2 linked regions of the Homo sapiens genome follow. The protein of the gene in region 1 purifies or fractionates together with the protein of each later gene. This does not show direct contact. Each region holds a gene or a part of one and is shown on either strand. Other genes may lie near its edges.

Region 1 (5,426 bases):
ATTTATATGAAGTATATAAAAGTTTATAATCACAATGTGATTATATTTGGATGGCATAGTTTGTGATGAATTTTACTCTCTCCTGCAAGACTTTCTGAAGCATGAGTTTTTCCCAGTAAGCAGGCAGTACTTCTATCAAGACTCATAGTTAAGCTCTTCCATTAAAAACAAAGCTCAGAGTTATCCATTCATTCAACAAATATAGAGTGGTGGCTATGTGGCAGACAAAACTCTAGGTGTAGAGGGTACAGCAGCGAACAAATCTCACAAAAACGCTCCTTTGGGGTGCTAAGGTTTCAGTAGGAGGGTACTAGATTTAGTACATCTAGATTTAGCTCTGAGTATTTTACAAATTGGATTATAAGGCATTTTCATCTTTAGGACATAGATTCATTCATTTAACCAATGCCTACTATGTGCCAGGCAATGTCCTCATGGGGAGCAATATATCAGTGGACAAACCAGACAAAACCCCCTGCCCTTAGGGAGCTTACTACCCGGAGAATACAATCATTGGAAGGTTTGGGCTCCTTTCGCTAAGAAGTAAAGAATGAAGGGGAAAGTGGTGGCCTTCATGTCATTGACATTCCAATGAAACCATGTGAATAGAGACCCACGCAGCAAACATTTCGTTAACTTCAAAAGTGTCCTCTGACCTTTGCAAACATTCCCACAGCTGTAACATTAGGTATATGCTTCAATTCTGTTTTTGAAATGACAGAAAAAACAAACCATGAATTCTGCACTGAAGATAGAAAACCTAAAATAATCAGATCTAATACACTTATATCTCCAGAATTACACTAAGTAAAATGACACCTACTTTGAGATTTTCAAATATTGATGACATGCTGTATCGCTATACTCATACACACCTTCTCACACAGTGCCACTTCAGGTAAAACTGAACTCATCTCCATACTCATCTCCATGTTTCCTTTGGGACCTCCTTCATCGACCACAGCCTTTTGTCCCACCACCCATTTAGCTGGCACACAGCTGGTGCATAATAAGTGGTTTTTAAAGGAACAAAAACCTTAGTCATCTTTTACCTGGAATAGCGTCCTAAAATTTTTCCTTTAAGGACAGCTTAAATTACTTTTTATTCCTTTTGTTACCTTTTATGTAAATAAAACATACTATTCTACATAGTTACAAACATTTTAGAGTTGCCATTTAGAAAAACAATTCCTAAAACAACTTCTGGATACATCGTTTAGCACATATTTTACATAATCAAATAAATGTCATTATATTTTAGCATTATAGTATTCAACAGAAGAAAACACAAACCACTGGATAGGTATGTGAAGTTTTTGTGTGTGTGCATTTCTTTAGTTCTGAACAATTTAATCCTTATTATATGTAAAGTATGAGCTCCAGAGCAGTTTCTATGTTATCCAAGCAAGAGCCTTTGGCAATCTGAGAACTTCACTGTGACTGATTCTGTTGTCTGCCTGATATAGTTTGGCTGTGTCCCCACCCAAATCTCATCTTGAATTGTAAATCCCACAATTCTCACATGTCGTAGAGGAACCCAGTAGGAGGAAACTGAATCATGGGGACAGGTCTTTCCCATGCTGTTCTTGTGATAGTGAATAAGTCTCACAAGATCTGATAGTTTTATAAATGGAAGTTCCCCTGCACAAGCTCTCTCTGCCTGCTGCCATCCATGTAAGATCTGACTTGCTCCTCCTTGCCTTCTGCCATGATTGTGAGACCTCCCCAGCCATGTAAGTCCATTAAACCTCTTTCTTTTGTAAATTGCCCAGTCTCGGTACGTCTTCATCAGGAGCATGAAAACAGACTAATACAGTACATTGGTACCAGAAGAGTGGGGTGCTGCTGAAAAGATACTGAAAATGTGGAAATGACTTTGGAACTGGGTAACAGGCAGAGGTTGAAAAAAGTTTGGAGGGCCCAGAAAGCAGGAAAATGTGGGAAAGTATGGAACTCCCTAGAGACTTGTTGAATGGCTTTGACCCAAAATGCTGATAATGATACAATGAATTCCAAGCTGAGTAGTCTCGGGTATGTCTTTATCAGCAGTGTGAAAATGGACTAATGCACTGCTCAATAACCATACACCCTTTTCCGTTTGTAACACAACACTGGGTAATGTGTCCAGCTGGAAATTTCCATTTCCCAGCTTGCCCTGCAAGTGGAAACCAATGCAAAATAAGCATTAGTTTTTGTGTGGTGCTTTCTGAAAAACCTGTTTGCCTTTCACCCTTCCATTTTCTCCTGGCTAAAACTATTGTACATGATGGCTGGCACCCCAGCAACCATGCTGTGACTTTATGGAAGACAAACTCTCAGGACAGTGAAGCAGAAAGGCACAAGGAGCCAACATCCCTTATGACTTTGTGTAGCAGGCACAGCCAACCCTGTCTACCTCCACACTAGTTTTACAGGAGTGAGAAAAACTATTTTGTGTAAGCTACCATTATTTCAGTCTGTTTCCAGATTTCAAATGCTAAGTTCAAACACCCATTTGATTTATCTGGGGCAGCTAAATAAAGAGACCTAAAATTCTTAGTCTTCTGCTTTATCTACTCTTGCCTTATGGCAAATTTTTCCACTATCAGGGTTTCAACTATTGTCTCTCAAGATTCCCAAGTTTGAGGTTTCCCACATCTCACCTAAAAATTTCCAACTACCTTTAAAACATGTCCATTTGGATGTCCCCGTTACCTCAAAATTTGAATTAGTATCATCTCTTATTTTATTAGTCCTCCTTCCCAATTTCCTTGTTGTTTAATAGATTTTCTCAACCAGTCAAGCTCAAGACTGTAATGGAAATTTCCTCAAAATGTGTTTCACCAGCACCAGGGTATCTTGGGAGGCTCATTAAGAATGCGAATCCCCAAGCCCACCACAGATTTACTCAACTAAATCTTCACAAGCCAGCCCAATAAGATCCCTGATAATTTATGAACCTACTACCAATGTTATTACTAATAAAATATCAATATGCTATTACCAATAAGATCCATGGTAACTTATTAATATTAGAATTCTAAATTATTGTTGAGACTTGCTTTTTTCAAAAAAGTCCTTCTCTCTCCTGCCCTATGTTTACTAAATATTCACTAAATAGCAAAGTCCTATAATATGATTGCTATGATTTGGCTGTGTCCCCACCCAAATCTCATCTTAAATTGTTGCTCCCATAATCCCCAAGTGTTGTGGAAGAGACCTGGTGGGAGGTAACTGAATCATGGGGGCAGGTCTTTCCCGTGCTGTTCTCATGACAGTGAATAAGTCTCACGAGATCTGATAGTTTTATAAAGAGCAGTTCCCCTGCACACGCTCTTTTGCCTTTGCTCCTCCTTCACTTTCCGCCATGACTGTGAGGCCTCCCCAGCCATGTGAAACTGAGTCCATTAAACCTCTTTTTCTTTATAAATTACCCAGTCTTGGGTATGTTTTTATTAGCAGCCTAAGAGCGGACTAACACAATGACCTTTGTGACCTCATTTCCTACTATTCTTCCCCTCACCGTTCCTAATTCCCGATGTGAAACTGAGTCCATTAAACCTCTTTGTCTTTATAAATTACCCAGTCTTGGGTATGTTTTTATTAGCAGCCTAAGAGCGGACTAACACAATGACCTTTGTGACCTCATTTCCTACTATTCTTCCCCTCACCGTTCCTAATTCCCGATTCTCTCCTGCCTTGGGGCATTTGCTCTGGCTGGAACACCCTTCCCCCAGATCCCCACCAGGCCAACTCCCTTATCTCCTTCATGCCAACTTTTCAATGAGGGCTAGTCTAACTAACCTACTTAAAATTGCAATCCATCCACCCACCTTAAACATTTTGCTTTCTCTTCATTTTCCCCATTTGCCACACAACAAATTCTATAATTAGCATATTTTGTGTGTGTTTTGTCTCCTGCCTCACTAGAAAGTAAGCACCTCCAGGGCCATGCTTTTCCTCTTCTGTTAACTGATGTATCCCAAGTGCCTGTAACAGTAGTTGAAGTTCAGTAGACATCTGCTGAATGAGTTAATGATTCAGTCAGAAATCTGATTCCTCCCTTCCCATTCTCACTGTTCCACTCTAATACTAATTCTGACTTTTGTCATTTTAAGACTGTTTTGCAAAAGAGTCTATCTACCATACCTTTTCCTCCAAACCAGCCAACACACTTCCAGACTTAACTAAGTTACTACTTTTAGGATGTCCCTCCCTTATAACGATGTGGCCCCCAACTGGCCCTGTTAGATATTATATATTGGAGTTAGGCTTAAATAAGAAATTAGATTCAATGAACTCTAAGAACCTGTTCAAATATTCGGTCCTGTGTCCAAATGACTCACCTTGGCATTTAAAATGCTTTGTAATCTGGCAGTAATCTACCTATCCAAACTTTTAGCCTGCTCCTTCCAAGTTTCCCTCTGCTCCCGGCCAATTTCCTTAAGAACTCTGAAATAAGCCATGTTCACTTTCCCCATTTGTTCTTGTTATGACTGTCTTCAACACTCTCCTAACTACAGAAATAGATGTCAGTATCCTTTAGGATCCTGCTGCTCAGACTGTGATCTGCAGGCCAGCATCCTTCAGCATTACATTCTTGTCAGAAATGTAGTAACTCTGGCCCCACTCCAGACCTCCTGAATCAGACTCTGCGTTTAACAAGATCCTCAGGTGATTCCTATGAACCTTCGAGTTTGAGAAGCACTGTGTGAGGGCTCATCTCAAATCACACCTCAATGAAATGTTCACTCAGCAGGCCTTATGTTCAGTAATAAGTATGTACTAAATTCCTAATCTTCCACAGGTCCTGCGTCCCCCACAGCATGCACAATATTTAATTAACAACATCCCCTCTTAGACTATTTATTCCCTCTTTAAGTCCTTTCTCCCCAGTTTGGTTGTAAACAACTTACAGGCATGACAGTCATACATCTGGCCAATCTGGATGAAGGGAACAGAAACCCATTCAAGTCATTTCAAGGGGGGGAAAAGAGCTTATTTTAATGCTACTTGGGAACTAGGGCTATAAAATTCGGGAGGGCAGGCTCCAAGGTCTCGCCACCCTCTCTCAGGATCTGTGTCTGCCCATCCATTCCATTTTCTTTGCTATCTCTCTACTCACTCATAGTTTCTGCTTTCTTCTATCAGCAGCATTCCCATGACTTATTATGGCCACCCATTCTCTCCCATACCAGCCTATTCACCTCTGCTCCCTTCTGCTTTTACTCTAAATCTCTAACTTTAATGTTTTCAAGAGAGATATGATTAACACAGAGACTCTTTTTGAGCCAAACCACAAGGTTACAAGTGTCTGAGTCACATAAGAATTGGTTGACCCTGGGTCAGGAGCCAACCATAGTCCAATCAGCTGAGGCCAAAAAGGCTGCAGTTCAGAACAAGGCCCTCTAGGCAGCAGGGCCTCTCTCAAAGGAGAATATTCCTTA
Region 2 (3,500 bases), on another chromosome or scaffold:
TTCATTTATTAAATACTTGCTGAGCATCTACTATTTGCAGGCGCCAATGATAAGTCCTGAGATTTAAAAACATGAAAACATTTACTTGCCCTTGGTGTCTTAAAAAAAAAAAAATTTTTTTTTCTTTTTTTTTTGAGATGTGGTCTAGCTCTGTCACCCACGCTGGAGAACACTGGCACAATCTCGGCTCACTGCAACCTCCGCCTCCCGGGTACAAGTGATTTTCCTGCCTCAGCCTCCTGAGTAGCTGGGATTACAGGCGCGCCACCACCACGCCCAGCTAATTTTTGTATTTTTGGTAGAGACGGGTTTCACTGTGTTAGCCAGACTGGTCTCGAACTCCTGACCTCATGATCTGCCCACCTTGACCTCCCAAAGTGCTGGGATTACAAGCGTGAGCCACCATGCCCGGCCAGAAGCAGGTCATTTTAATACAAAGAAATGCATCCCGGCCGGGCGGTGGCTCCTGCCTGTAATCCCAGCACTTTGGGAGGCTGAGGATCATGAGATCAGGAGATCGAGACCATTCTGGCTAACACGGTGAAACCCTGTCTTTACTAAAAATACAAAAAATTAGCTGGGTGTGGTGGCGGGCGCCTGTAGTCCCAGCTGAGGCAGGAGAATGGCGTGAACCCAGGAGGCAGAGCTTGCAGTGAGCCGAGATCGCGCCACTGCACTCCAGCCTGAGCGACAGAGTGAGACTCCGTCTCAGAAAAAAAAAAAAAAAGAAAAAGAAAAAAGAAATACATCCCAACATTAGATATAAACAAAGTGGTCTGGGATTGTTCTAGAGAGAAGGAACAAACTTTGTTCCTCGTCTACAAAACACAGCTGATATATCTTCCCTTGCAGGCATGTTGTTAGGAATAAATAACATGCTGAATTATAGAGATTCACAGAACAGGTGACATTTAAGCTGGATCTTGAAAGAGGAGAAGGGGTTTGCCAGGTGGAGATGGCGCACAAAGGAAGGTTACAGACGGTTAATGTCAGGACCATCCTACCCTAACCAAATGTTCTCAGCATCAAATAAGGTTGGGAAATACTTGGAAAGTAGAAGTACCATATAAGAATACGGTACTGATAAAACTTGATCAGCCATTCAAGTGAAGTCAGAGCGACCACACCACCCAGCTTATTTTTAAAATTTTTTGTAGAGAATTACAACTCCCCATGCCACCAAAGAAGATTTGTAAATGGATGGTAAATAAGCACATGAAGAGTTGCTCAACATCATTAGCCATTAGGGAAATGCAAATCAAAACCATAATGAAATACAACTACATGCCTATTAGCCAAAAAAAAAAAAAAAAAAAAAATTGTGTTTAAACTGACAATACCAAATGCTGGGAAAGATACAGAGCAACAGGAACTCTGACATGAGAGTAGGAATGCAAAATGAGACAGCCACTGTGGAAGACAGTTTGGCAGTTTCTTAGAAAGTTAAACACATTTACTCTATGGCCCAGGATCTCATTCCTGGGGATTTACTCAAGAGCAATGAAAACCCCACTCAAAGATCTCTACAATCCACAAAAAGAAAAAAGACATCTACACAAGTATTTATCACAACTCTATTCATAATAGTCCCACACTGTGAGCAACCCAAATGTCTATGGAAAAACAAACAGATACCTTTATATCATAGAATGCTATTTGGCAATAGAAAGGAACAAATTGTAATATATGCAACAACATGAGTAGATCTCGAAAGCATTCTGTGAAGTGAAAGAAGCCAAACACAGAAGACCACATATTATATGATTCCATTTATGTGACATTTTGAAAAAGACAAAGCTATAGGGACAGAAGTCAAAGTAATGGTTGTAGAGGTAGGGGAAGAAGATTTGCCTAACTGACTACAAAGGAGCATGATGCAAAAGGAAACTTTTTAGAGTGTTGGGAATGTTCTATATATGAAGTGCTGAAGTGATTAAGCCATTAAATGCATTTGTCAAATCTCATCAAACTGTACACTTTAAAAAGGTGAGTTTTAGTAAGATGTAGATTATATCTCAATAAACCTAAGTAACATAAGATTCCCCTAAGCCTCTGTTACCCCAAAATCAGGCTCAGGAAGGTGGCTTCCTGACTCCCACCAGCTGCTCACAGCTTCTCTTGCACAAATAATAACTTGAAGACAAAGCCCATACTTGTGCCCTGATCAGATGTGATTTTACCCCCAAAGCCAGTGCCTACACTTCCATGCCTACTTCTGGCTTCCAGCCCTCAGCAGGGCATGCTGGGCCCAAGCTCTAATTTGGGACATATAATCCCCATTTGCAACCCATTAACCTAGCCAAAGTCTCTGGTCCCTGGGGTTGAGCTTGCTGGATGTCTGGCTCACCTACTACAATGTCATCGTCAGGATGAGGGAGCAGTTCTGCTTGTGTGCCTTGGGCATCATGCAGCCAGATACAGCCCCTGAAGGTCTGTTTGGGGGTCTTTCATTTCAGTGCTCCTCACATGGGTCAACTGTTCCAGTGTGCGGTGGGCCACCCGGGTTCAAGACATCTTCACAGCTGGGAAGCTCCTGGCCTTGGCCCTGATTATCATCATGGGGATTGTACAGATATGCAAAGGTGAGTATCGCAGGAAAAACAGGTACTGCCCAGCTTTCCTCCCCTTGCATGTACACACCCTCTCAGCCCAGCTTTGGAAGTATGCCACACCCTGAGATTTCCCCAATTCTAGCCTTGAGTGACTTCTCTTCTTCTTCCCTTGCTTGACAAAAGGGAAGGAGAAACCATTTTCCCCGAGGTGGCTGGGAGTAGGGAATGCTCCCTTTAGGCTGCAAAGGTCACCTCTCCCATGCTTACCTCAAGGCTGTAGCACAGCTAGGTAAAGACCCCACATATCGGCCGAGTGTGGTGGCTCACACCTGTAATCCCAGCACTTAGGAAGGATGAGGCAGGAGGATCACTTGAGCCCAGGAGTTTGAGACTAGCCTGAACAGCACAGCGAGATCCCATCTCTACAAAAAAATTTAAAAATTAATGGGGCATGGTGGTGCATGGCTGTGGTCTCACTTACTCTGGAGGCTAAGGTGGGAGGATCACCTGAGCCCAGGAGTTTGAGGCTGTAGTGAGCTATGATTGTGCCACTGCACTCCAGCCTGGGCGACTGAGCAAGACCTTGTCTCAAAAACAAATAAACAAACAAAAACCCCAGATCTCTAGATTCCTATTGTCTTTTTGCCCCAACCCCAGGGAAGCTCCCTGCATCTTCTGTTGAATCTTGTCCACATCTTAAAGTGGAGGACAGAGAAAGGTATTTTATGTTTCAAAATTACTTATAATCTCTGAGAGAGAGAGCTCTGCATTCCCGGGGCCCCTGCCAACATTCCCCACTGGATTTGGCCCTTTCCAAGCCTGAGGCTATATTTGGTTTCCATGGGACCCATGGCACCATGAGGCTCTGCCCAGCGTCACTGCCTCACGGAGAAAGTCAGGTGACAAACAGGGAAATTTCCCACAAGCCCTGAAGGCAGTGTGGGCAGC

Evidence for each region.
Region 2: the proteins of ATP8A1 (region 1) and SLC7A8 fractionate together in Homo sapiens (co-fractionation; one large-scale study listed by BioGRID). This does not show direct contact.

What each region holds. Positions count from the first base shown.
Region 1 is NC_000004.12:42,649,452-42,654,877, forward strand, and holds part of ATP8A1 (phospholipid-transporting ATPase IA), read right to left. Parts: intron 1-5,426. UniProt on the Homo sapiens protein: Catalytic component of a P4-ATPase flippase complex which catalyzes the hydrolysis of ATP coupled to the transport of aminophospholipids from the outer to the inner leaflet of various membranes and ensures the maintenance of asymmetric distribution of phospholipids.
Region 2 is NC_000014.9:23,142,161-23,145,660, reverse strand, and holds part of SLC7A8 (large neutral amino acids transporter small subunit 2), read left to right. Parts: intron 1-2,456; coding exon 2,457-2,582; intron 2,583-3,500. UniProt on the Homo sapiens protein: Associates with SLC3A2 to form a functional heterodimeric complex that translocates small and large neutral amino acids with broad specificity and a stoichiometry of 1:1.